Regions from separate parts of the Homo sapiens genome. Here region 2 is linked to region 1. Evidence: fine-mapped expression QTL. A gene starts in region 1. The other region holds a variant in brackets. All regions are shown on one strand. Distances are between the middles of the regions. Region 1 holds the start of CCDC18-AS1 (CCDC18 antisense RNA 1). Region 2 overlaps CCDC18-AS1 (CCDC18 antisense RNA 1).

Region 1 (10,206 bases):
CTGAGGCAGGAAGATCGCTTGTGCCCAGGAGTTTGAGGCCACAGTAAACTATGACTGTGGCACTGCACTCCAACCTGGGTGAGAAAGCAAGACCCTGCCTCTTAAAAATTAAAAATGAAGCAATAAATATCATATTGTTATTAGTTTTAGGGTTGTAGGAATCAACAGGTAATTAATATAAGGCGTTTGACAGTGTCTAGCACCTAAGAATCACTTAACCAACTCAGACTATGTATTTCTCATCTGTATTTTTTATTTTAAATTTAAAAGAGTACCCTCATAAGTGTACAGGACCTAAATAAATGTATAGCTATACAATATCATATTTAAATACAAGCTGGACAAGCATATTTATAAAATATCAAATTTATAAAATTAACAAATCAACACAATGGAGAGACAACCCTTCAAAATACCATAGTTACTATACTAGACATTAAGGATATCCAAGCCAGCCGACCATGGTGGCTCATGCCTGTAATCCCAGCACTCTGGGAGGCCAAGGCACGGGGATTACTTGAAGTCAGGAGTTAGAGACAAGCCTGGCCCACATGGCAACACATTGTCTCTACAAAAAACAGAAAAATTAGCCAGGCGTGGTGGCACACGCCTGTAATCCCAGCTACTCAGGAGGCTAAGGCATGAGAATTGCTTGAACCCGGGAGGCAGAGCTTGTAGAGAGCCGAGGTCACACCACTGCACTCCAGCCTGACAGCGTGACTCTGTCTCAAAAAAAAAAAAAAAAAAAAAAAGAAAGAAAATCCAATCCAAGCTATTTTTAACCATGGAGGGCTTGGATTAAGAATTTTTTTTAAATATATAACTACCTTTAAAAACATTTAAGGCTGAGAACACTGCTTTCAAGTAGGTCCAAGGTTAATATTTAATATTATTCAAAGAGTTGCCATACGTAAAAACTATACTCTCAACAAAATGGTTGAAAAGGAGCAGCCATAAATTTAATTTCAAAAATTTCATTGACTTTAATTTTAAACACATTGGGCTAACAGATATCAATAACTGGACATAATACCTTCTAAATAGAGAGATATTTTACATTATTTGCTATCATGTATTAGTTATCATTCCCATTTTACACAAAGAGAATATTAAAGGATAAAGGAAATGGCTCCCAAGCAGGGCCACCATTTACATACAGTTAGGTAGGTTGTTCAGTACACAACATACTAGAGGGCCATTCTTATTGTAAATACCATAAATTCGTATGTTTACTGTGATACTTTTTCTGGCAGACAGTAGTAATGCTTTTTAAGGAAGGAGTGCCTTTTTCTAATTTGTACAGAGACCTTATGGACTATTCATGGCCCTATTTCTAAGGATCTCATCTTTCCAAAACAGAAAAATATTTTTTTAAAAATTTGTGAGTAAAATTAACACACATCACTATCTGTCACCCTATGCCGTGTATCTCAAAACTACAACCAGAAAAGTCCATGGTGTACATTAGGGGAAAAAATACTTTGCACATTTTTCAGCTTAAAAGACAGATGTTAACAAGACAGCTATTAAAAAAACAAAAAAGAAGTAAAAATTTCTTTGAAGCAACAATAATCTTCATATAGGCTTATCTTATTTTACAAAGTGATGTACTCCTGAAAGGTTCTGTCATAACATGAATTTATGTGACTCACTTTATACTTCATATGCATAAAACATGTTTTTCATTTGTAAAATTACGTGATATACAGTACCTTTTAAATACTATATAAATCAGCATTCTCTAATTTCTCCATTTTCTTTTGTTTGTGGGAAGGAAGCAACTAATGTATTTCACATAAAATACATTAAGAGGATGTAGGCCAAAGTGACTTCTTGGCTCATTAGCCTGGCAAAGGTTTCTGAAACCCCTTAAGAACCATGTCCTCCATGGTATCACTACTGGAAATCTTGGACAACAATGAGAGACTAATGGCAGAGAAGGAATTGAGTATCATTTATCTTAATATCCTTAGTAGTACCTAGCATGATGCCAAATAATTGGTAGTATTCAATAAGTAATTGTGGGGTGGCAGAAGGAAAACAGAAATAAAAGATATATTAATTTAAAGAAAAGTATTAATAAAATCCTAACTTGAAAAGCATTTGATTATGTGATAAATTTTGCAGTGCAAATTAGATGTGTCCCTTCGGAAAAAATATCTGTATAAACGATTATTTACTACTTACGTCCACTTTCCAACAGAGACTGGTTTAGGCTTTAGAGCAAAGGTTCTCAAACTGTGGTCCATGGACTTATGCCAAAACTGCTCCTAATGGTTAACATTAGTTAAGTATGGAAATTCAAAGCATTTAAGTACCTTCATTGCAATTTGACAAAATAATTTTATGTCTATTGAATCAAATAGTAAAAAATTGAGTGTTGGTCTTTCCCTCATCTTTTCCAGTGATCTATTTTCATGTTATCTTACAAAGCTACTAGTGTGAGAAGGACAGGAATTTTTTAAAAATTCCTTCAACGTAAGACAGCTTGGAGCAACTCAACAGCTGAAGACGCAAATTCTCAGATACTCTTTCAAACTTTTACTACTTTCAGTTACAATTCTCATAAATGTGAGGGGAGATATTTCATGTAAGGTTCTCAACCCCTGACTAATTCTCAAAAATTACAAGTAATACCTGAAATCAAGTATTATTTGTACACAAATAAGAAAACCTTAGTTAAAAGATTTCCCTAAGGTTAAAGAATTCTCAGTGCGGAACTTACAGCTGACTCTCAATGTCAATTCTTTCTATAAGGCAACAGAACATGTTAGAACTCATTCAAGAATACGTGTTCACAAAAAACTGCAACAAAATAGGAACACCTTTTATAGCTTAGAACTCCCTCTATTCATGTATCTATGGTCTTCAATACCAAGTCTACTTTCTTAAACTCAAAATAAGCAAAACAGAAAAAAAAATTTTTTTAAATAAGTTATTTCATAGATATACTGGTGATAAAATTAGTTCAACTTTAACTTGCATTTTACAGAACTATCTCAGAATGCTTAATTTGCTCAGACAAGATAAAGCAAGGTGAGAAATGAACAAGTGAAATGTCCTGAAGCAAAGTCTAATTCATTAAACTTATCACTAAAAACCCAAACTTCAACATGTGAGAATCATATCACTTTAAAATGTACATTACTTATTCCATTTGGATATATTCTACATTCCTAATCAATGCTGACAGAAAAGTATAAAAATGTCCTATTATGATTAGTGTATAGGCACACACTTCAAACACCTAAAACATATAAACCTTAAGAATTTCTTTAAAAATGTAATCTCTCAAAACAAAACTTCTTTGGAATAATTAAGCAATATGAGATTATAAATGTATAAAGTCTACAACCCCAACTAGGGAGAATTCTTGGGCGAAAATGTAGATTCTTAACCACTTTTAAGAATAGCATAATACAAGAAAAAAAGGTAAATTTTTAAATTTAAGGTAACACGTCAATACATGATTTTTAAAAACAAATCATCTTCATTACACAATGGAAATGCTTTTTCACTATAGCTTTCTGACTCACACATTAAACTGAATTTAGCATATTCCAAAGTTGAATTATTTAGCATACTGCTTGCTACAGCTGCACTTCTATTCCATCATGTCAATCAGAAATCTAAATATATCCTAGAAAAGAATCAACTCTCCCCAAGAAGACAGACTGTAATGTGTTATTAGGTTTTTGGAACGATCCCCACTTCTGTAGTGTAAACAAATGTTTAGGCAGACCCTGCTGAAATCTTTTGCAATTTTCATTAGAAAGGCAATGTTGATAAAGGTTCTTTTTCCTTTTTAAGAGTTGTAAAAAGAAATTATAGCTATCTGTGCTGGATAATCTTGTGAAAGACTTATGACAGCAATCACACATACAATGTAAAAATAAATACACAAGGGAAAAAATAGACAACTTGGCTTTCATTTTACTTGCTAGAGTATTCAGCACACCAAACAAGTAGAAAAAAAAAAAACTAGTACTAGTTTTAAGAATCAAATATGCTTTTTCCTAGGGATTTTTCTGCTTGTGTACTGAAATGGCAGGATATATTTTAAAACTACTTTCAAGACGTCATAAAGGATTAAAAATGAATCATTTAATCCTTTTGTCAATACTGAGAGTAAAATATTGGATATGGTCAATATAAGCAGATGTGTTCTCTACTTCAGTACAACAGGAAAGTCACATTTTAAAAAGTTAAATTATAAAAATTAAGTGATAGACAACCACCTGCCTATCAAAATGATTAAAATTAATCATTTTTCCCTGATTTCACAAGCAATCAATAACTTTAATTAGATTATTACAAAAGGCAAGTTCTCACCTCAAATTGAGTACAACTCTTTCACAAGAGTACATGTAAAAATATCGCAAAAGGTACGTTCCCGAAACATTATGAATAGTAAATATGTTTCTCCTCTCTGAAACCACCAGAATACAGTCCCCCAAATCCCTATTACGGGACCAAATCCTTTCCAGGATAAAAGAAACTGTTGAAGTTTTCAGAAGTGCTGTTCCATAAAAGCCTAAGTGTATACATTCAAATAGGAATGACAGCAGGAAAGGACGGGGAAATTTTCCGTTAAAAAAAAAACTTGCATAAACTTTCAATCAAAGATTTCAAAACTTATCTCCACAGAATAGAACAAAGCAAACGACATAAAAGCAAACGAAAAGAAAAAAACGAAAATTTAAAGTTCACCCTATTCTTACAGAATGGAACAGGAGTTATTTGGTAACTCATTCATGAACGTACCATCAAACCATTTTTAGAGCAGAAAACATACACCTTTTATTTAACAACGATAAACTTGACAACGTTGAACACATTGTATGTTAAGAATTTTTTAACTCATGTGTTCAGAAAATAAATCTTTTCCTCTACATTGGTGAAAGGTCAGGTGGGGAAGGGGGTGCTCTGTCTCCACCCACGTTGAAGTTCCTCCGTCTGAATTTTAACTTTCCAAAGGAGAATTTCTGCGTTCCTTAATTATTATCTAAGTTCAACTTCAGGCAAGTAATTCTTGTTGCTTCGGCTTACCTGGCTGTAAAGTGAGATCACTCTTATTCTTTACGTTTTGGGGACGCTGACCTAAATGTTTGCACTCCTTACATGTATTCGCTGGATGAAAAGTACTGCAAAAATGCTACAAAGGGATTGTTTTTAAAGCACCGGCTGCCTACATGCCAGTCTGGCTTTTTCATTAAGTTACTTACCAGGGAAGAGGAATGGAGGCTTTGACACGAAAGGGTCACGCGATTAGCAGACTGCTACCCTAGAACCTCATTCAAACCAGCTCTCACACACGACTTACCTTGTATGACATGCTCTGGTGAGATGGTCTTCTTTTCCGATTTGTTACAAATCTCATTGGCTTCAGAAGATATAAGGTGAATGAATTCAGTGCAGCAGTTCACCACCAGCTCTCGAGCATCGTTGGCCACCCGGACATTAGGAAGAGTCTCTTTGATCATTTTATTGATAGCAGCTCTGGGGATAGTGAGATCATCATCGTTGCCAGACGAGGAAGCCATAGTACCTTCCTGTTTCTCGCGCCCCGGCTTTTAAAAACTCCCCAGCTCTGGTCCACTACTCCACCGAGATTTCTCAAAAAGTCGCCCTCGGAGAGTGATCCCGGGGGGTGCTTTGCGAAGAGGGTGCAGAAAATGAACGGAGGAGCAGCTGGCTTGAGGGCTGGGAACACTCGCGTGTGTGAGAGATTTAGGATGAGTTTGGGAAGAAAGTGGGGGCCCGAGGATTCTAGAGAGAGCACAGCCCAGGCTGAGGAGGGGAAAGCGCGGTGGTCCGGAAATTTGAGCGGCTGGGGAACCACCTTCGTGTCTCCTCAGAGGGGCGGGCGCTGTCGCCTAACTGGTCCCCAACGGCGTCGGAGCAGAGGCAAGATCCAGGGGCACTGGCCTCGCCGCGGTACCGGGCGGGTACCCAGCGGGCTCGGCTCTATAGAGCCCGAGGCCCCGCTGCCGCTGCCGCCGCCGCCAGCAGCCGTTGCCGCCGCCTCGGCCAAACCATCCTTCAGACACCCGCGCCGCCGCCTCACAACATGTCCGCCGCTGCCGCTGCCGCTGCCGCTGCTGGAACGGCGACGGCCGCCTGGGAACTAATATGGACAGAGCCAGGCACAGTGGGAGTCGCAGTGGCTGCCGCCGTGGCCGCGTAGCCCGAACGCAGATCGTGGAAGCCGAAGACGCGGCAACGGTGGTCCCTCCAGATGCCAGGGAAGGTTTGCAGGAAGCCGCTCCCGACACCCTTTGCGCCACCGGAAGCCTCGTTCCCTCAGATTTCCCCCTCCCTCCCGGACCGACTTCCGGGTGTGGCTGCCGCCCTTCCCCCACCCACGCCGGCGGGAGCCGCCCGTTCGCGCTGCCAGCAGCTTCCGCCTGCTACGGTCCTGGCAAGCACCTCGGGATCCCATTCCTTCACAGGGACCCTAGCCAGGCAAGCGCGCGCCTCACTGTACCGGAGAGCTCCAAGCACGCGCTTGGTCTGGGGCCCGGACGCTACATCTGGGAAGGGGTGGGTGGCTGGGTAGATAGGCGAGGAAGGATCGTCTCTACCCTCTCTCAAGTAGCTGAGGCCTCCGAAACCTTCCCTAGCTGGATTTGGGGACAGAGGAGCGCTGGTATTGATAAAATAACTCTCTTTGCTATTCCTTTAGGAGCCCAAATGAGGATTGAAAGTGAGAAGAATGGGACCTGGGCTTGGGGGTGGGAGGTGGGGAAAGCAGAACCCCGTGTGCCTGTTTCTGCGTCGTCTGGAGAAAAAGCTTTTCAAGATGTCTGATAGACCTTATTCGGTTCAAAGCTCTCTAAAGTCCTTCACCTTTTTTTTTTTAAACTTCATGAAAAATGAAACATTTCAGAGAAGTTACTTGCCTAGAGGCAACTAAGTCGCCTAATGGCTAAGTAGGAAAGCAGAAGTCAGTTCCAACATAGTGGAAATGGAGTGGAAATGCATGGCATACAATGAGCTATATTAGAAGGTTCCCATTTAGACAGTTTTCATGTTGTATTCCATGTTGGCTTCTACAGGGGAAAAAAGTGTTAGAGCATCTTAAGCAACTGTTTTTACTTCTTTCCATAGTGACTAGTAATATCAACAGGTGTCAAGGTCTAAACAGAAATTGCATTTAAAAAAAAAAAAAGTGTGTCAGCCAGGCGTTGTGGCTCATCATACCTGTAAACCCAACACTTTGGGAGGCTGAGGCAGGGGGATCACATGAGCCCAGGAGTTCAAGACCCGCCTGGGCAACATAGTGAGACCCGTCCCTACAAAAAAAAAAAATATATATATATATATATATAATATATATTTATATATATAAATATATATTCCAACATCCCACTGTTTATAGTATAGCCTCTTCTATATGACAATATGAAACACGGGTTTTTTTTTCACCAGGCTTGGTGGCAGGCACCCGTAGTCCCGGCTACTCTGGAGGGCGAGGTGGGAGGATCGATTGAGCCAGGGGGTCAAGGCTGCAGTGAGTTGCGGTTGTGCCACTGCACTTCCAGCCTGGGTGACAGAACAAGATTCTTTGTCTCAAAAAAGATAAAAAAAAAAAAAAAGTAAAAAAACTGAGTCTGTCATACTGTCATGTGGAAGAAGAGGCTATACTATAAATAGTGGGATGTTGGAATTTCTAAAAACTAAACAAGACACTGTTGAAATCCATTTTGTCACTTTGGTTCATCAGATTCATTACTCTTGATACATATGATGGCAACTGGCTTGTTGACAGTGTTTTCTTAAAACGTTCTGTCTGAGCCCTATATGCTGCTCTCAAGAAGACATTACAGTTTATTATGCTATTTTTTCATTTAGCATTTTCTGCAGGACAACTTACTGGTTCTTTAATTTCTGAAGTGTAGACACTTGTTTTTCAGTGCTACTAAATTTAGTCAAAACAAAATTTCTTTGATTAAAAACAGTATTTTAATTAAATTTTCTTCAGGCTGGGCATGGTGGCTCATGCTTGTAATACCAGCACTTTTGAGAGGCCAAGGGGGGCGGATCACTTAAGCTCAGGAGTTCGAGACCAGCCTGGCCAACATGGTGAAACCTCACCTCTTCTAAAAATACAAAAATTAGCTGGGTGTGGTGGTGGGCACCTGTAATCCCAGTTACTTGGGAGGCTGAGACAGGAGAATCGCTTGAACTCTGGAGGCAAAACTTGTAGTGAGCCAAGATCGTACCACTACACTCCAGCCTGGGAGACAGAGCACGACTCTATCTCAAAAAAAAAAAAATACTTTATGAAGTGGTGGGTTTGTTTTTTTTTGTCAGTTTACTGTTGATTTAAAGATTTATTATGGTGCCTAAATTTATCTTGACCTTAACAAGTTTATCCGTCTGAAAAAGCTGGCTGGCAAAAAATGTCCCAAGTTGTCACAGTGTCACTGACCCTTATCTTGTCTCTCCTGAAAAAACTATAACTTTGCTTTTTCATGTAACATTTATGTTTATAGACTTATGCTAAATAGACGAGTAGAGCACACATTATTTCAGTAATAGTTTATTGCTACAGGCTTCTGTGGTAGCATAAACAGAATTGAATGTGTAGTAAGAGTTGTAGGTTCCAGTCCCAGCTTTTTTTTTTACTTAGACAAGTCACTCTCCAAGCCTCATTTTCTTCAGTTCAGATATAGAAATATTATGTAACACACAGGATTCAAAATCAAATGAGAGTTGTGTGAAAGTACTTTTTATAGTATGAAGTGTTATATAATGTTAGTGTCTTTTATCATCTTTATCAGGCTTGGTCAGTCTTCAACTAGTAATGAACCATGTAACTAGTTTATTACATACGTGGCTGAGAGAAATTTAATTGGATATAAATACCAGTGTGATATGTCATAAAATATGCTAATCTGTAGCCCATATTTAAATAGTTATTTATAGTACACTACATGTATCTGTATTATAAATAGGCTTTTAAGGACAAAGAGAACATCTCCTTATTAAGCTTTAAGAGTTTCAGAGAGAATGCATATATATGAAACTTTTTTTTTTCATGTTGTCTAGGTGTGGTAGTGCACACCTGTGATCCTACCTACTTGGGAGGCTGAGGTGGCAGGATCACTTGAGCCCAGGAGGCTGAGGCTGCAGTGAGCCATGACACTACTACACTCCAGCCTAGGTGACAGAGTGAGACCCTGCCTCAAGAAAAGGAAAAAAAAAGTTTAGCCTCAGAGTAGGGTTAGGGGAGTGTCACTGTCAAAAACAGTGGAGTTGAAAGGGAGCTGTTTAGAGAAGATGTGCTTGCTTTTGCACATGTTTGGGCAGGCATTTGTAGAAGTGGTGTCCTATAGAAAGTGGAAAGAGAAGACAGCATCTGATTTCTACATTCATTCAATAACTGTCTAGTGTCCTGACTATGATGTGGGAGAAATAAAGATGAATATAACTCCCACCTTGTTCTTGAAGACCCTATAATCTGGTGGGAGAAGCAGAATATAAACCAGATTCAAATAAATATTGTGATAAAATATACAGGCTAAGAATGCATGGGAAGAAGTGATTAACACACTAGTTGTGGAGTACAAAGGGTTTTATGGAGGACTGGATATTTTAACTGCACCTTGAAGATTGAGTACAATTTTGATAGGGAAGGAAAGAGCATGTAGCTGAAGAAAAAACACAAAAGTACATTGTATGGCTTGGGGAAATAAAGTAGTCTAGAGTGGCTCTATTAATAAGGTTTGTAAAGAGGTGTAGTGGTATATGATGCAGGAAAAGTAGGTTAGGGCAAAAAGAAAACAGATCAGTGCCTGATATGAATTATACACTGGGCCAAAAGTTTTTCATATTTGCTATTTCATTTAATTTCCATATAGCCATGCAAAATAGGTGTTTTGACATGGGGGGAAAACAGTCTCAGAGAGTTTTACTAATTTGTTCAAAGTCTCACAGATAATAAGTAATGGAGCTGAAATTTCAAACCAGGTTGTTACTTAACTCCAAAGCTGAAGCTATTTGTAATTTGGTAACTATCTCTAAATTAAAAAAAAAAAGGAAAAAAGGTTATATTCATTATAGGACTTTAAAAATATAAAGCACTTTCACATGTATTTGGTCTTTATAACTAGTCATTAATCCCAATTGATGGATGGGAAAATTGAAGCCCAGTGAGATTATTCAAGGTCACAGAGTGAATAAGTGGCAGATTGGAAATGC
Region 2 (10,206 bases), 26 kb after region 1:
AGCCAGACTATGTTTCCTTAGTCCATTCACTCTTCCACTACCTCTTGCCTTTTCTTTTCTCAAGCCTTCAATACCTCCTCCCTCATCCTCATTCTCAGCAGATGATCTTGTTTCCTATTTCACTGTAAAAGGAGAAGCCATGGGCTGGGCGCGGTGGCTCATTCCTGAAATCCCAGCACTTTGGGAGGCTGAGGCGGGTGGATCACCTGAGGCCGGGAGTTCAAGACCAGCCTGACCAACATGAAGAAACCCCATCGCTACTAAAAATACAAAATTAGCCGGGTGTGGTGGCACATGCCTGTAATCCCAGCTACTCGGGAGGCTGAGGCAGGAGAATCTCTTGAACCCAGGAGGCAGAGGTTGCGGTGAGCCGAGATCGCACCATTACACTCCAGCCTGGGCAACAAGAGGGAAACTCCATCTCAAAAAGGAAAAAAAAAAAAAAAAAAAGAAGCGATAAGAAGGAAATTGGCACAAAAAGGATAGCCCATCATGTTCTTTTTGGGCCTAATTCTCTTCACCCATTTCCCCTGTTCCCCAACTTTTACTAGACCCCAGGCCATTTTGGTACTAATCTGTTGGGCCAAAGGAAAAAAGTAATGGAGAACTAATGAAAATAATAATGTGTTTGTTGTATTTGTAATGTATTTCAGATAACTGATACCGTGCTTCCAGAAGATTTTTCTAACAGTGTTTGCAAGCTATAAAATAGTGCTTTCACTTAGAAAAGGCTAGACGTGGTGGTTCATGCCTGTAATCCCAGCACTTTGAGAGGCCGAGGTGAGTGAATCACTTGAGATCAGGAGTCTGAGACCAGCCTGGCCAACATGGCAAAACCCTGCCTCTACTAAAAATATAAAAATTAGCCAGGCATGCTGGCACATGCCTGTAATCCCAGCTACTTGGGAGGCTGAGGCAGGAGAATTGCTTGAACCTAGGAGGCGGAGGTTGCAGTGAGCCGAGATCTTGCCACTGCACTCCAGCCTGGGCAACTCCATCTCAAAAAAAAAAGAAAGAAAGAAAGAATTACCATTCTCATTCACCTTAATCCATAATAGCTTCAGAGCCCTGACTAAGAGGGCTCTGAGGTCAACCCAAATCCTCTCCTAGGACTACCAAATAGTCTCCTTTCTAAGATAAGATATTATATTAATGCTCATTTAGGCAGTGGCTTTCAGACTTTTGTTGTTTATTTCCCACAGTAAGAAATATATTTTGCATCTATAGCAAGACAGTTCAAACACATACAGTCACATTTATGACTGAAACGAAAGTTCATGAGACCATAGTTATCTTTATGATACGCAATGATGAGTCAAAGCTTATAATTTAGAAAATACTACATTAAAGAATTGTTAGAGGGAGCATAGGCTGGGCGCGGTGGCTCATGCCTCTAATAGACAAAATCTTTACGATTCCACAAATAGCTAGATGAACATTAGTTTGGAAACTACTCAACTATAACTCTCCACCCTCCACATACACACAAAAAGGAGTGCCCACATGCATGATTAAGCTGCTTGGCTATGAATAAATGACTCATATGACTGTTTGTCTAAGTGGTAAAAAGCAAAGCTGATGTAGGAACAAGTAAGGTAAAATCAATTAGGGAAAGGGAACAGCTCCTCCCTATTGTTCTTTTTTGTTCTCCACCAGCATAAACACTGCTATCCAAGTAGCCTCTGCATTACAGAGGGCTGAAAATTAAGCCCTGAATTGGGGAAAGGGACTAGATGGATTCGATGGTTTCTAAGTTACTTTTAAATCCTAAAACTTTATTCTCTTAATAAACATTTACTGATTGCTTAATACGTACCAGGCACCATGCTGGGAGATAAGGATCCAACATAAGACAAACAGTGCTGATGCTTTTGGAAAGCTCATATTCAAGCTGGGGAGACAAACAACATACAAGTAAGTAAATACAATGAAATTAATGTTGTGAAGGAAGTAACAAAGTCCAATGATAGGGAATAATAGGGGTAACCTACTACTATTCTTATCTATTATTATTATTAATTACTACCATTACGATTATGGTAGGAGTTTGACTCTATGCTGTGTCAAATGGGCAGCCATCAAAAGGATTTAAACAAGGAAGTGACATGACTTAGTTTTAAAAGAGCACTATATTGTGTGGAGAATGTGTTGGGAGGTGGAAAGAATACAAGTAGGAAAATTATTTTAGGAGTCTAGGCAAGACATGATAGGGGCTTGGATTATGGTGGTGACAAACTAAAATCCTGTTTTGTTTGCAATTAATAGACAATGAAAAAGTATTTTTGAATACTGATTTGAAAATCTTACTTATTTTGCCTCCAAAGCATACATTTTTTTTTTCTGTCTTTGCTAAATCATTTAAATCCAAGGGTTCCAAACTTTTTTTTTTTCTGCACACAGTATGCTAGTGGTGGTTGCTTTTAATATTCCAGAGCTCTGTAGTCAAGATCTTGAGTGTAGGAGTTGGTTGGGGTGGAAGGACTGTAATAAGTTGAGACTAGTGGAAAGAAGAAGCTGGTGCCAAGTTGCTGTGCAGAACAGGGCATAGGTGCATACTATAGTTCCTTGGGAATTCTATGAAGCTTGGGACAGTGTTGAAGATTCTGTATGGACAAGGCCCACCTTAGTCAAATAGGGGAAAAGAAAGATATATAAACTACAAGTTCACTTTGGAAAGGCAGAGATATCAGAATAAGAGAGTATTATTTGCATGAGGGTCTCAAAGCTTCTTGGAAGAAATGATACAAGAATTTGGAGTGATGATTATTACCCTAGAATACCATGATTATATTTCCTAAACCAAATAAGAAGAGACTTTTTCCAGCCATTTTGAGGGAAAGTGAATGGGGCTGCCTGGGAGGGCAGGAAATTCATCTAAGGTAGCAGAAAACTAAGATTTGTGGCTAGTGTTAGGACAGCAGCTGTCTGCATGTGATGAATTATTTGTTATGATACAGTTCAACGTTTCTCTGGCCTAGTCTCTGAGAAAACTTAAGTCTTTAATAAAGAACTGAAGAAAAGCTTAAAGAAAAAGACTGCCTCTTGGAGGATTAAATTGAGTTAGCCTAAGGGCCAGCTTTCAGCTCAGAGAGCTGTTACAAGCACCAGAAGGAAGGAGGTAGGAATCCCTCTCCCTACCCCACCCCTATCAACTTTGAGTAGAGCCCCAGCAGGAGCAGGGGGAGAACTAGTGCAGAGTCCTGGCTGGAGCCTTGGCAGAAGGGTGAGAAAGCTCCCAGGGCTGGGAGGCCACTCGGGACCCATGAAAATGGGAGAAACCTCACACGTTGGTTGTCCTTATAAAGAAAGGACAGGGTGGGAACTTGTTATCCATGTACCCAAAATCCCCAAGTGTGGCCTCAGAAAATAAAGGTTACATTGGGTGGGTTGGTGTAACAATTGCTGTATCCCAAAACAAGCTGTAGAATCTTTGGAGATTCACAAGAATTAATTAAACCGATATTAGTCTAGAAATGGTTTACATCCAGATTCTGCTTGGATCCGAGAAAACAGTTTCCCTAAACTTCCAGCCCCCAGTTTGCGAGAGAACAGTCACAGACACACATTCGGACTGATACTGTGTTCTTTCCTCCTACACATGTAGTTGAACAAATGCGGAAAACTCTAAAAATAAGTTCTCTAATCAAGATTCCAGATCGGGAGCAGGCTAAAAGAGGTCTGAGCAATGTTTTCATTTCTTAATGCTCTTGGTGGGTTCTTGGTGAGAGGCTTATTCTTAAAAAGCCCATTTGTAGGCTAGGAGCAAAGACGCTACAGGAATTTACCTGGTTGCTGACCAGTTACCAATGCATGTCCATGTCCATTCTGGTTCTTAAGCCACACTTGTAAACAGCATATAGACTTTTGTAAAAAGGCAAGTCAAAAGCTTTCATGAAGATATTGACATGCTATATCATGTATAAACATATTTGGCTCTTTGAAATGTCTCAGGAATGAATCATACATGTCGCTTTCCACTTTTGGAATAGACTAAAACTGGTTCAGCATGTCCAGCAGGTTAGTCTGGCTTCCAAAAGTTGTTTGGCTATGTATTTGGCTAATGCGAAAGTAATTGCGGTTTTTGCCATTGCTTTCAATGCCATTACTTTTGCACCAACCTAATATATTTGTGCATTTCTTTAAGGAAAATAATTAACCATGCTCTTACCTGCCAGAAGTAGTTCTTAGCTTAATTGCTATTTTCATCACCTTCATAAATTCACATCTAGTTCACAGCA[A/G]CATTCTAGAGGAATGGTATATGTCAGCCAATAAAAACCACCTCATTAGAAAGTGTTAAAAAAGTCATTTTAAGAAACACCATTCAAAATTTGAGTACGAAAATTAATTTTGCAGCACAGATATACGTTGAGTAGAACTTACTGTTCAAATATAGAAAATGACCAATACATATAAGAAAAATATACTTATTTAATTCCTAAAAAACACATAGATTTTGCTGATAGGAAAAAGAGAAGCAGGGATATAAAGGCATAAATTGCATGCTTTCAAAACACACAGGCTGTATTGATGAGAAACAGAGATGTGTGGACATGGATGCGTGAAAGGACTCACTAAGGCTATAATGAAGGGCCATGAGGAAAGAAAGCATTGACATTTGTTCTTTCCTGGACCTTGACCTTGTGTTATCAGGACCAGATATAGCAGATCTTATAAAGAGGGTGGAAAACAAAACCAGTAGATTCACATAATTCAATTCCAGGCCAAGAATGTAAAAGACATGAGATTGGTGTTTTTGAAAGCCAATGCTACCTAAAGGGGTAAAAATTCAAATTGTTTCTTCCATAAAATTACTTTTTAAGAAATGATAATTAGAATTGAAACAACAAAACTCTCAACTACTGGTTTTTTACAAATACAACTTTTGAAGGAAGAGTCAAGAATAATTCATTACCCTTCTTAAAACCCTGTCCCACTGTTTCTCATTATCAGCCACTTTATGTCCCAAATCACAGAGAAAAGGGGGTCTTCCTTCTTTTTCCCACCCTTTTTTTTTTTTTAGACGATGTCTCGCTCTAACGCCCAGGTTGGAGTGCAGTGGTGCGATCTCAGCTCACTGCAACCTCCGCCTCCCGGGTTCAAGCAATTCTCCTGCCTCAGCCTCCTGAGTAGCTGGGATTACAGGTGTATGCCACCACGCCTGGCTAATTTTTGTATTTTTAGTAGAGATGGAGTTTGACCATGTTGGCCAGGCTGGTTTGGAACTCCTGACCTGAAGTGATCCTTCTGCCTTGGCCTCCCAAAGTGCTGGGATTACAGGCGTGAGCCACCACGCCCTGCCTTTCCCACCTTCCTTTAACCTCCTTCCAGAAGAAAGAAATAGCCAATTTAAATAAACATCTATTGTGTGTTGATTTTGTTGTCTGTGATGTTCAAGGTACTGGAGAATGAGCTGTAAATAAGACAGACAGCAATTGTGCCCCCCAGGAGTTGACGTTCTAATGAGGGATGACAGCCAATAAACATACAGAAAAAAATGAATTAGAACTTCAGGTGCTGATCAACATTATGAAGCTATAATAGGGTATTGTGAGAAAAGTGACTCAGGGAGATGGGATACTACATTAGCTGTGATAGTCAGGAAAGGGCTGAGAAAGTGACATCTGAGTCACTTTGTATCACCTAAATCAGGGGTCCTCAACCCCCAGGCCACAGACCCATACAAGTCTGTGGCCTGTTAGCAACCGGCCTGCACAGCAGGAGGTGAGCAGCATGTGAATGCGAAGTTTTATCTGTATTTATAGCCATTCCCCACCACTCGCATTACTCGCATTACTGCCTGAGCTCTGCATCCTATCAGATCAGCAGAGGCGTTAGATTCTCATAGGAGGGCAAACCCTGTTGTGAAATGTGCATTTAAGGGATCTAGGTTGCATGATCCTTACGAGAATCTAATGCCTGATGATCTGTCACTGTCTACCATCACTCCCAGATGGGACTTTCTAGTTGCAACAGGTTCAGGGTTTCCACTGATTCTACATTATGGTGGGTTGTATAATTATTTCATTATATATTACAATGCAATAATAATATACATAAAGTGCACAATAAATGTAATGTGTTTGAATCATCCCAAAACCATCCCCCATAACCCTAGTCCATGGAAAAAATTGTCTTCCATGAAGCTGTTCCCTCATGCCAAAAAGGTTGGGGACCACTGACCCAAGTGATAAAAACAAGGAATCTTTTTATTACCCAAGTGATAAAAAGAGATCCGGGGGGCTCTCCAAGCAGAATGAGCAAGAGGTGGGATGGCCTGAAGCATGAACAAACTTGGTGTGTTCATGGGACAGAGTATCAGAGTGGTTAGAGCTCAATGAACAAGGAGAAGAGTGGAGAGAGATGAGGTCAGAGACACAGATGGGGCAAGATTTGGAGAGCCTCATAGACTCTGATGAGAAGTTTGTTGATTATTCTGATGCAATGGGAAGTCTTTAGATAATTTTAAGCAAGGAAATTATATTCTCTGGTTTACGCTTTAGAAATATGACTCTGGCTGCTATGTGGATAGAGGAAGGACAATGAGGAATCAAGAGTGCAGCCACAGAGACCAGTGAGAAGTGATGATGGCATTGACCTAGATTGGAAGAGTAGAGATGGAAAGAAGTGGTTAGGTTCAGAATATATTTTGGAAGTTGGAGCTAATGGAACCTATTGATGAATTGGAAGTAGATACTGATGGATTGAATGTGCTGTGTGAGGAAAAGAGAAGAGACAAATAGGGCTCCTAGGTATTTGTCCTGAGCAACTGAGTGTATAATTGTGTAATTTACTAGGACCGGAAAGGCTCAGGGGAAGCAGACTTGGGGTGTGATAGAAATCCGATAGCTTGGTTTTGGCCATGTTAAATTTGAGATGCTTATTAGACATCCAAGTTATATGCTGAGTAGATAGTTGGATATACAAGTTCTGGAGCTCAGGCAAGGAGCTTGGGTCTAGAGATATACACTTGAAAGGTATCAGTATATAAAGTTCTTTGAAGCAATGAGTCTAGACGAGATCACCTAGGGAGACAATATAGAAGGGGTATCCAATCTTTTGGCTTCCCTGGGCCATGTTGGAAGAAGAATTGTCTTGGGCCACACGTAAAATACACTAACACTAACAATAGCTGATGAGCTACACACACACACACACACACACACACACACACACAAAATATCTCATAATGTTTTAAGAACGTTTACGAATTTATAAATGTATAGCATTCCCTACTCTGGGATAGAACACACACACACACACACACACACACACACACACACACACACACACACACACACAATATCTCATAATGTTTTAAGAAAGTTTACGAATTTGTAAATGCATAGCATTCCCTACACTTGGATAGAAAGAGAGGAGCCGAGGACCAGAGTTCTGCATACTCCAACATTTAGCAGTATTCTGTCTTCATGTCCAAGGCAAATCTTTTATTATATTCTCTGATCTTATCCAATTCACCTCTTCTATAGCAGATTAAAAATGACTGTAAATTCTTTGACACTTCTACCAAGAGGTGGGGTGTAATTCCCTTTCCCTTGAATCTGGGCTGAGTCAGTAAGGCCAGTCAGTGACTTGACCAACGGAATTAATCAGAAGTGACATTCTGGGATCCGAGAGATGAGGTAATAAGAAGACTTATACCAATAGTTTCTGCCCAGGATATTTGGAATATCCTCTCTGAAAGCTTGAACCATCATGTAAGAAGGCCAGTCACCCTAAGAGTACCCTGGAAAGACCATCTGTAGGTGCTCTTATTGACATTCTTAGCTGAGCCCAACCTTCCAGTCACTCCTGCCAAGATATCAGACATGTGAATGAAGCAATCTTGGAATTTTGAGACTAACCCATCTACCAGCAAACCTGGCAAGTAACCACATAGGATATCGTGGGGCAGAGAAATTGCCCAGCTGAGCCCTGCCGAAATCTCTGGCCCCTCAAATCATGATATATAATAAAATGGGTAAATTTGGGATAATTTATTATATAGCAATAGAAAACTGAAAACACCTTCCCTCTTTGTCTGGGACCTTATTTTATAATCAATTCTCATCCCTTCTGGTTCATGCTACCTTCTCAACCACACATTATTTTATTACCAACTTTTCCTTCCTTCCTGGTTCTTTTTCCTCCACCTGCAAGCATGCTCAGTCTTTTCTACCTTGTTAAAAACTTTCTTAAACCTACTGCAAAATCTTTTTCCTTTAACGCACCCCTAAATTGATCTCACTGAGTTTACCAATATCTAATTGACAAAACCATCAGATATTTTTCTGTCCTTATATTTAACTGTATTCGGTTTCAGAAGTTCTCATCATGATACTTTAAGGATGAGGACAGCTGATGTGGCTGGCCTGAAAAATAAGGTAAGAACCAGAACTAATCTGCACAGTCAGGGATTTCAGTTTTTTTAGGCCTGAGTTTCTTTAGCTGAGACATGAGAAGCACCTCAAAATCAGAGCTCCTGAAGACAAGGTGGATACAGAGTGAATGAACCAAGTAGAACAGAGCTGGATAGGTGAGAGGAAAATAGCATGAGAAATTCCTTGATCTAGAATTTTGGTCCAGCATTTGAGGAACAGCAGGATCAAACTTCTGAAAATAGAGTAATAGACTGTCAAAAAGAAGGGTAGGCTTAGATTAGTGTGGAGAACAGTCAGGAGAAAGCCCTTAACCAGGTTCTTAAACTTTATTTTCCTTATGAATCAATTGGAAAAGTTTTGTTAAAGATACTGATTATCCTGCCTTGCCCAAGAAATTCTGGGGTTGGATTGACAATTTTTCTTTCAAATAAACACCCCAGGTCATTCTGATACAGGTGGTCTTCAGGCCAGACTTTCAGAAACAGCATCCTAAAGAAAGAGGAAGGGCTTGGGTGGGCATTCTGGAATGGGACCATTTGGTTATTTCTTCTTTACCTAATTGGTTAACTCATTAGTTTGCTCATGATTCCACAATCTAGGCTGGGCTCAGCTGGAACACTGGGAGGCTGAACTGAGTTTCTCTCTTTCTCCATGTAGTTTCAGGGCTTCTTCCTCTTTACATGACCTCCATATGTAGCACTTTCCATGTGGTCTCTGCAGCAGAGTAGCCAAACTTCCTACATGTGGCTCGGAGCTTCAAATAGCACAAAAACGGAAGCTGCCAGGCTTCCTTAAAGTTGAGGCCTGGAATTGGCACTGTGTCACTTTTGCTACATGCCACTTGTTGAAGCAAGTCACAGGCCTAGCCCATATTTAAGGAAAAGCACCATACAAATGTGGGAACACTGTGAGATGTGGTTCACTAAGGGGCCATAATTTAATGGGTTAGCAGAGAAAATACCAGAATAAAATAAGATAAAGCTGGCTTTGTTGGGAGTAGAGATGTATAAGGTTAATATATATAATAAGCACAACCACAAAAGCATGCTCAGTTTTTAAAGATGAACCACAAATTAAGCTCTGAGTTTCCTAATAGCCAGGAAAATCAGTTAGGGTTAAATAAATTAATAAAGAATTAACAATTATTTATTATGGGTAGTTTGCAAATCTTTTTTCCCATTCCGTGGGCGATCACTTCACATTATTATTTGTCTCCTTTGCTGTGCAGAAGCTTTTTAGCTTGATGTAATCTCAGTTGACAACTTTGCTTTGGTTCCCTATGCTTTTGAGGCCACAAAAATCTTCCCAGACCAATATCTTGGAGCATTTCCTCAATGTTTTATTTTCGTAGTTTCACAGTTTCAGGTTTTACATTTAAGTATTTAATCCATTTTGATTTTATTTTTGTATATGGTAAGAGATAGGGGTCTAGTTTCATTCTTCTGCATATGGTTATCAAGTTTTCCCAGCACCATTTATTAGAGACTGTCCTTTCCCCATTGTATGTTCTTGGTGCCTTTGTGGAAGAAGTTTGGCTGTAAATGTGTGGATTTATATTTTGGCTCTTTTTTTTTTTTTTTTTTTTTTTTTTTTGAGATGGAGTCTCGCTCTGTCTCCCAGGCTGGGATGCAGTGGTGCGATCTCGGCTCACTGCAACCTCCACCTGCCGGGTTCCAGCTATTCTCCCACCTCAGCCTCTTGAGTAGCTAGGACTACAGGTGTGGGCAACCATGCCCAGCTAATTTTTTGTATTTTTAGTAGAGACAGGGTTTCACCATGTTGGCCAGGCTGATCTCAAACTCCTGACCTCAAGTGATCCACCAGCCTC

The links.
Region 2: its variant is fine-mapped to the expression of CCDC18-AS1 in blood mononuclear cells (TOPMed, PIP 0.97). The same link has a PIP of 0.9 or more in whole blood.

Annotation. Positions count from the first base shown.
Region 1 is chr1:93,341,983-93,352,188 of GRCh38, reverse strand. CCDC18-AS1 (CCDC18 antisense RNA 1) reads left to right here and starts at 6,378. Exons shown (of 9, transcript NR_034089.1): 1 at 6,378-6,465. It overlaps DR1 (down-regulator of transcription 1), which reads right to left and starts at 6,282. Exons shown (of 3, transcript NM_001938.3): 1 at 5,324-6,282. The coding sequence starts at 5,543. RefSeq lists enhancers at 5,443-5,652, 5,713-5,782, 6,152-6,687.
Region 2 is chr1:93,316,343-93,326,548 of GRCh38, reverse strand. CCDC18-AS1 (CCDC18 antisense RNA 1) reads left to right here. Exons shown (of 9, transcript NR_034089.1): 7 at 654-780; 8 at 1,820-1,914. Among named protein-coding and RNA genes, the nearest start is that of CCDC18-AS1, 24 kb to the left of the region's middle. The variant A/G (reference allele first, on the strand shown) is at 4,239.